2 separate regions of the Homo sapiens genome follow, and region 1 is linked to region 2. Evidence: fine-mapped expression QTL. Tissue or cell type: lung. Region 2 holds a variant in brackets; the other region holds the start of a gene. All regions are shown on one strand. Distances are between the middles of the regions.

The links.
Region 1: it holds the start of CYRIA, and the variant in region 2 is fine-mapped to the expression of CYRIA in lung (TOPMed, PIP above 0.99).

What each region holds. Positions count from the first base shown.
Region 1 is chr2:16,664,202-16,668,588 of GRCh38, forward strand. It overlaps CYRIA (CYFIP related Rac1 interactor A), which reads right to left and starts at 1,633. Exons shown (of 12, transcript NM_030797.4): 1 at 1,579-1,633. RefSeq lists silencers at 1,550-1,599, 1,670-1,839.
Region 2 is chr2:16,612,115-16,616,501 of GRCh38, forward strand. The region is part of intron 2 of CYRIA (CYFIP related Rac1 interactor A); the gene reads right to left. Among named protein-coding and RNA genes, the nearest start is that of CYRIA, 52 kb to the right of the region's middle. The variant G/A (reference allele first, on the strand shown) is at 2,171.

The sequences.
Region 1 (4,387 bases), 52 kb after region 2:
CCAGAGGCAGGAGGGAATGTGGGCAGGTCTGTTTCCACCTCGCTTTCCCACTCTCCCCTCACAGGAACCCAGGGCCAGCAGGAGGTGAAGTTCTGCCAGCCCCCAGCCTGGGCCCAGCGCCCATGTTTATGACTGTTTATTTCAGAGCAAGTAGAAAGGAGAAATTAGAGCCATGAAAGACAGGACAACGGACCAATAAAAACCAGCTCCCAGAAGAGTCAGAAGGAGGAAGACAGGCAAAACTGTCACCATAGCAACACAAGACAGTCAGAAGCACGCAGGAAAAACAGCCCCTGCTCTGCCTCCTGTCTCCACTGCAAAGCAAGCCCTCGAACCCCAACCAGAGATCAGTGAAAGCCGACAATGATCCACCCAAAGAACTCTGGTACCCAAGCCCAGACCTGGCTAGCAGCCACTCTCCTCCTGCTGCCCCAGCACAAGTCCCAGCCTTCCAGGGTCCCAGATCAGCATTCTGTGCCCTGGGGACTCGACACTGTGCAGATGGCCCAGGTCCCATCCAGAGGAGATAGTGACTGGTGACAGAGAGGAAAGTTTCTAACAGGGAGAAAAGGAGGGTCACAGAGCTTCAGGGGAGATCAGGGCCCTAAACTCCAGCCCCATGACCCTGTCTTGGGTTCCCTGGGGAGCAGGCGGGTAAACAAGGGTGTGGGAGAGGACATCAGGCCCTGGACACAGAAAGATTGCTCCATCAGTTCTGGACCTGGCACCCCCAAAACAGTGGCTGGGGGAATTCTGGGGATGCGTGGGGAAATAGCTTTGGAGGCCTTAAATGACAAAGATCTTGGCCCTGGTCTCTGGGGACACTGGCTAGCGAGTAGGAGCAGCTTGGAGGAGGACCCAGGGACGGGCTGGCCCATTTTGACAGAGAATGTCTCCTGGCAGACAAGACAGGTGTCTCCACCAAAAAGCATGGCTGGCCTGGGACCAGCATTTTGGGAAGTGGGTCAAATTGTTCCCAAAGCTCAGTATTGGAAAAGTGCCTTTTGCCAAACTGGGGTTCTGGGTTCTGGGGGAGGAGAGAGGGTGACGGCAAGGTGTGCTGGGTCCTAGGCACAGCAGCTTTCTGGCTGGCTAAGAACGTCTGTGGCAGGTGGCAACAGAAGGGTCCAGGTGTGCAGGGGCTGGGGAGGGGGCCATCCCTCCCTTTGGGGCTGTAGAGAGTACCCAGGACCCCGGGGCCTCGGGTGGTGGGAAGGGGAGTGTTAGGGGTCCCCTGCAAGAATGGAGCTTATGATACCTGGGGTGGGGGGTAAGTGAGTGAGGGACGAGGGAGGGTGGTCTGGGAAAGGAACACAATCAGGAGGCAGCCCTCTCAGAAAGAGGGCAACGGGGCACAAAGCCGGACCTCTGTCCGGCGATCGCTAGAGAAGGGCTCCCGGACGGTGTCCTCCGCTCTCCCTCCCTCCCAAAGGCTGCAGGGGCGTCCGGGAGGAGAAGGATGGCAGGGAGGCGCCCGCCCCGCCTCGCGGTGCCCCGCGGTGCCCCGTGCAGGCCGAGCCCCGCGCCCGCAGACCCCCGCCCGCGCCCCTGCCGCGCCCCCAGCCGCGCCGCGCTCACCGAGTCGCCGCCGCCCTGCTCTGCCGCCCGCTCCGCCGCCGCCGAGTACGCCTCTCCCGCGGCCGCCGCAGCCTGCGAGACGGCCTCGGAGCCCCGCCCCGCCCCTCCCCGTCCCTCCCCGCCCCGCCCCGCCCCCAGCCCGGCTCGCGGCAGCCGCCCCGCCCCGGCCCCGGGGGATCCCCACCCGCGCTGTCACCGGCCGCGTCCTCACCCTAGCCTGGACAACCCCATCTCTTTGCCCGGCTCTGCTCTCTGCTCCCAGGAGCTGGTGCGGACCCGCCCCAGCACGGTCGCCCCTGCCCCTTCTCAGCCTTGGCCACTTGGCCTTGCCTTCCCAGAGGAAGCCCGAACCAGACCTTTCTGTTTCTGCACACCAAATTCCTCCACACCCACGGTTGCCCTCCAAGAAAAAGAAATCCCCGCAATCTCTAGACGCATATTCACCTTCAAATTAATGCCCAGCCAAATCATCCCAATCCCTAGGCACACTCCAAATTACTTGAGATTCTGAACCCAGTCTCGCTCCCAGTCCCTTTCTGCCCACCCTATTAACAGATCTCCAGCCTTGGGGCCCGCAGTTATCCGATAGGACCACTGTAAAGTCTTCCCAAAGGCTCAATCCAAAACATGTAATTAACCTTAAAGAGTAAGTCTGCAAAAACACTTAAAAAATTCTATGATGCAAAAAGAAAGTAGTGGGTTACAGCGTCATTGACGTGATCATTGTTCTAAAACATCTGCCATGGAGGCTTTTTGCATTAGAGAGAGGGAGATTCAGGAAACCGGAGAGGACTCAGCAGTGCCAAACAGGTTGTGAGTCAGAGCTCCTGTTGAGGGGAGGGAGAGCTCCTGGGGACCCCGGCTTCGGGTGCTTCCTTTCCCAGTCCATCAGCCAGAACATCATGAAACATGTGTTAAATCCCCATAGTGTGCCAAGGTACGTGCCCGAAGCTGCATGGGTTGGGGCCCTGTGTGGGCTGGGATCAGAGGAGGCGGGAAGCATCAGGAGAAGGTGTTCAGGCCCCTCTCCTTTCTGAGATCCAGGGTGTTTCCCCTGGGAGGACTTGTTGCCCAAGCTTCCTTTGCACTCTGAAAGGCTCTCCTGAACTGCCCACAGAGGCTCTTGGTCTGTTTTTTGGCAAAAATTCACAGAGGGCAGGAAGGCACTGTCTAGTTAGAGTGAAATATTTTCCCACTTGGAAGGGGTCCTTAGGACCAGAAGAAACACTTTCCCGTTCTCTTTTTGAGTTTTCCCCATGCCCTAGACCAGCCTCTGTTGTCAATTCCTGCAAAGGTGTTTTTTTTGTTTTTGTTTTTTGAGACAGAGTCTCACTCTGTAGCTCAGGCTGGAGTGGAGTGGTGTGATCTCGGCTCACTGCAACCTCCATCCCCCGGGGTTCAAGCAATTCTCCTGCCTCAGCCTCCAGAGTAGCTGGGACTACAGGCGCCTGCCACCACATCCGGCTAATTTTTGTATTTTTAGTAGAGACGGGGTTTCACCATCTTGGTCAGGCTAGTCTTGAACTCTTGACCTCGTGATCCACCCACTTTGGCCTCCCAAAGTGCTGGGATTACAAGCGTGAACCACCGCAGCCGTCTGGCAAAGGTGTTTTATCTGTGAGTGGCTCTATGAGAAAAGCCTTCTTGCCATGAGGTAAACCATGTCTACTACACACACACACACACACACACACACACACACACACACATACACACACCCCTAAAATTTTCTGGCTTAATCTGTCCACCTTGAGTTTGGCCAGGTTTTGGGAAGAGTGAGGACTAATCAGCCACAAACACCATTCATCCCCATAAAACACTATCATTTCAGACCATGAGAGGACTTTTCACTTTACACCCATCTGTCTCTACTAATACAGCTCAAGTTTGTGAGTAGACTATTTGATGCATGAGATTTCACTTCCACACACTTAGAGATGGCTTCTGTTTCAATAATCGAGGGATACCTGCATGGTATTGCCCAGCCCATTATGAAATAATAGGGTTTTCTAATGATCAGTGTGGAATTTAATAATTGAATGTTTCCTAAGACAAAATTACCAGATGAAAGTCTTTTAACTTTATCAGTAATACTAATAACAAGTTTAAAGGTTATTATCATAAAGATTATAGTGAAATTAAACTGCCATTTAGGAGGCAGGTAAGTTGAGACTGAATTTCAGATGGTTGTCACTCACAATATGTGTGCTAAGATGAACCTTAATATCTTAATTAAAGTAAATGTATACTGAGCTGTGCTAGTTTCAAGGACATCTTTTTCATGTATTTCTTTTTTAAAAGAGATTGATGAAGCATGGACAAAGTGCCAGGCACTGTGCTAAGTAATGGAATAAGGACACAGTTCCCTGGTCTTGAGGAGGACACAGGCAGGCTGCCTGTGGAAAAAGACTAACAGAGATATTTGCTGTGTGGACCCAGGAAAAGAAAGAATTCTTTGTGATTGGGGGAAACTGAGAGCAGATTCTTGAAAAGCGCATTTTTAAGCTAAAATATGACGTGGGAAGTTAGACTTCAATAGGCAGGAAATGCGGACAAAGACACTCCAAGTAGAGAGACAAAGTGGAGGCCTGGGTGAAAAGTGGTCCGGGGTGGCCAGCGTACCAGGGGGATCCCACAACGTGGGACAGAGAGTGGAGAGCTAGAACAACAGCCTGAGAATCTGCACTTGATCCTGGGAGCTCCTGGGGACTGAGTGGCCTTAACCAGAGCCCCGAATAAGGAGCCTGACGATAGGTTAAGGTCCTTAGCAACAGTGAATGGAGAAAGAAGAGAAGGCAGCAGTGAAAAT
Region 2 (4,387 bases):
TGGGAACTGGAACTTACTTGTGATTGAATCCACAGCAAGCCACCCAGGGAATGTGTGTGGCTGAATGCATGAAAGAATGAGTGAAGAATGATAGTGTGAAGGCCACAATCAGAATCCAAGTTCTTCCAGCCTGAGGTCCTTCCAGGCAACTACTTAGAAAGAAAGAGGGAAGGAAAGGAGGGCATGTGGATGGGAGGGGGGAAAAGGGTGAGAGGATAGGAAGAAGGAAGGAAGGAAGGAAATAAGGAAGAAAGAGAAAAGGAGGAAAAAAGAGGGTGGGATGAAGGGAGGGGAGGAATAAAAATGGTTCCACCATGGTGACACTCATTTTAATAAAGATATAGCTAAAGATCTCATGCTATGCTTGAAAGTTAAAAGAAAGATAATTTGAGTCAACAAGAAAAGTGAAATATGTCCTCAATGATGCACAAATTAACTTCTAAAAAAGACAGCAGGATTTGAGAAGAGCCTGCCACCCACTGCTAGGATGTGATGGCCAGAGACTTACTTTCATGATGACAAGCCTGCAGAACCATCTCTGCTCTGGCCTCTGAAGCAGCCAATCAGCTGCAGGAGGCTGAGCTGCGTGAGAAGTCCAACTTCAAGGATAGATGCTGCAAAATAGCAATGTCTCCCCACCAAGCGGAGGTGGATGCTCATTTTATGGAACTTCTTGATATGGTCTGACTCTGTCCCCACCCAAAATCTCATCTGGAATTGTAGGTCCCATAATCCCGACATGTCGTGGGAGGGACCTGGTGGGAGGTAATTGAATCATGGTGGCACTTCCCCCCCATACTGTTCTCATGGTAGTGAATGTGTCTCATGAGATCTGATGGTTTTATAAATGGGAGTTCCCCCGCACAAGCTTTCTTGCCTGCTACCGTGTAAGATGTGACTTTGCTCCTCATTCGTCTTCCTCCTTGACTGTGAGGCCTCCACAGCCATGTGGAACTGTGAGTCAATTAAACCTCTTTCCTTTGTAAATTACCCAGTCTTGGGTATGTCTTTCTAGCAGCGTGAGAATGAACTAGTACACTCCTTTAAGTCAAAATTCCAGCTGAAGGAATTTCGAAGAATGCTGAAGGCTGGGAGACTTCCATGCATTTTCAGGAGTGCATTTTCAGGTATTTACTGCCTCCACCTCTGGGCAGGAGAGCCAGCGGGTAGTGCTGTCCCAGGGGAGGACATGATTCTCTTCAGTCCCTTTTCATAATGCATACCTGAGCAGACACAGAGGACCCTGACACTGAAATCCCAAGGACACTCATTCCCCTGCTTTCAAAAGGCCTTCATCTAAATCAAATTCTCATGATCCGATAACTACACTAACAGCAGCCATTCGCTGAGTGTCAGCCCTGCACTCGATGCTATGCTAAGCGCTACATGCAAATGCCCTCATTTAATTCTCACAATTACCCTCCAGTAGGTTAGTTTGAAGAGTTACTATATTGTATATTTCTGCTAAATTGGAGAGCTTTTCTCTGGGCAAATGCAAGAGCTTGCAGTTAAGTACCTTATCCACTAAGGGGCATTATCATCTCACATTAAAAATACCAGACCTGGTCAGGTAGGTACCGAACACAAATGCAGAAATTTGTGAAAAAAGGACAAAGCAGAAGTATCAAGTTCAACATCCTGAATATTTTCTAAACGTGATTCCACTCATTTGTAAAAAGTGTTTAAACTCACAGTTGTAGTAGCCAACGCTTACTTAATGTAGTAACTCAATTGCTGCTTCAAGGTCATTTCAAAAGCATCTGTCTTGACCACTTTGCCAGAAAACGGGGCTATGACATTTGAGAAGGAAACGTGAATAGACTTAGCCATTTGGCTTAGTAATTATCCTCTCCAGCCCCTTCAACTAGTTTCTTAAGTCACGTTTTCCACTGAGGAAAACATCTGTGTTGTGGCTGAATCAACTTCACTCAAGTTAAGGGTAAAAAGAAAGGTTGGAATCCTACCACAAGCTTATCAGAATGAGTTTCTATAACTCATTTAAACAAAACCCCCACTTAAAATTATATTTTGAGTCAGAAAATACTCTGGAAATGGAAATGCACATAGTTGAAGACCCTCAATTCATGATCTGTACCCCCGAGCCTGCTTTTATGGACAGATGGGAGATGGACAAAGGTACAAGTTGCTCCCATGGAGGATGTCCCTGCAG[G/A]AAATCTGCAATCCACAAGAGAAGGCAGCAAAGTCCTCATGGAACTTCCCTGTTTAGATTGATAAGCCAAGACCACAATTAAACCAAACAAACAAACGCACAAAGTTTATCTCTGAATTTCTGTGTAAGCCCAGCCTGGCTCCTGATGACTCAGCGATGCTCTATCCTGATTTAAACTTTCCCCTGTCGTCGGGGTTCCCAGGCTGCTGTCTGTGGCCACACAGTCCTCTACATTCGAACGCTTTGCCTTTCACCCTCTGGAGAGCCTGCAAGCCTCCCAGACAGATCAAGCACTGTTTGGGCTATTTCTTCATTCCACTTGAAGACAGCAAATTGTGATTCCAACATGAGGTCTGAGTTGCTCCCCAGCTCATATCATCTGACAACCCAGCTCAGCTACACAAAATAATCTCAGGTCCTCTGGTACTCAGTGGAAGATGGAAAATACACTGAGACGGAGCGTAGAGACACCCGGTCACCTGCCACGTAGCAGCTGTATGGCCTTGGCAAGGTGCCACATCCCTCTCCACAGCTGCCTTTTCTTGAATGCCTACTGGATGCCAAGCTCTTTGCTGGCTCTTACTCATCTTCAAAATCTCTCTGCAGAGTAGTGCCTTTAGATAAGGAAACTGCGGCACAGCAAGATTCTGGAACTCATGAAGACCATTCCCTTCTGTGTGACTCCATTAGATGGACTGGATCAGGCTCCAAACAGGAGCCAGTAGTTCTTGTCCATAAAGGAGCTCTGGCAATGAATTCTGCATAAATTGCTTCTAACCATGAAATACAAAATGGCTTATTGTTTTTTCTTTGAGTTTTCTAGGCTCTTACTGCTCTGAGCATGGTCTGGAGACTGGCACCCACCTGGGAGCTTATTACAAATGCAGTCTCTCAAGCCCCACCTCAGAACTGCTGAACGCAAGTCTATGTTTTAATCGAATCCTCAGTGTCCTCAAGTTTGAGAACCACTGCACTTGACTAAAGATCTGAAGTCCCAGTGTCATATCCCCTTCTCTTCTGCCTCCCCCAAGTAACCAGTGGTCGTTTTAGGATTGGTCCCGAAATCCGGAGTTCCTCTCCTACTGGTTTAGTATGCATTTGGTTTTACAAGTGGGCCCCTTGATTAGTTCCACTTGCACAAATGAAAGTTTACATTGTAACCAGGGATAGGACCCACTGAGCCCCCACTGCAGGCTGGGCTTTGTACTAAGTGCTTCACATACAATATCTCAGTCCTTGAGCTGGACTAGATGGCTATGAAGTCTTCACTCTTTCTACAACCAACACTGCCTCCACTCTCCCAGCCTGTTTCTTCACCTGCAAATGAGATCACACAGAGGTAGACCCAATGATCCCTCAGATCCCTCCAAAAATAAGATTTATGAAATTTCCAAGGTTCAACTCTCCACAAAAATATCTGTTATAATAGAAAATCTAGATCGCTAAATGCAATGCAAAAGCAGAGAACAGTCAACCTACCTATTGCAGCTATTACTGAACGTTACTGTAACATTCGGTGGCTCAGTGACGAGGCAGCTGGCCTTTCTGAACCGATACCAGCAGCTCTACCACTGGGATATCCCTGGTGCAAACTGGGAGGTGCAGACAGGACACAGGGCAGGCGCCCTCCACAGGCCCAGGGTTGGCATGGCGACGCCTGGGACCATCTTCACTCCATTCTTCTCTTCTGTTTCGCTCGATTATCGCTGTGTGAGATCCTGCCCCAGAAGGACAGAGCAATCCTGAGGGTGAGGCCTGATGTCGGGGGAGAACAAGCCAGTCTTTGTCAGGTCCCTCAAGGGGACGAGGCCAGCCTGCCTCAGGCTGCACACAGAAGAGGCCTGTGCTCACTTGGCCGTAGAGTGGTGGCCTGCTCTGTCCTTCACGGTGGGAACCCGCCACTTGAACATTCTACATCTCCCTCCTCCTGACTCCAGGGCTGGGCAAAGTGGAGGGATCTGCTCCTGGGGCCTGCAGGCATTTGCACTGAAAAGGCTTCAAGTAGAACTTACTGCTCACACTAGCACCAAAAACTCTTTGTTGAACAATTCCTCTCTCCCCTTGGCTGGTTTCCCACTATCCCATTCACAATGACATCCTTCCCTACGTCACCCTTTGTCAACTCTCCAGCCTTCCCTGGCTCCCCCGGGCTCCTGCTTCCACACTGACTCCAGGCCTCTCACTCCCTCTGAGAGGACTCCTCGCTCAGAGGACCTT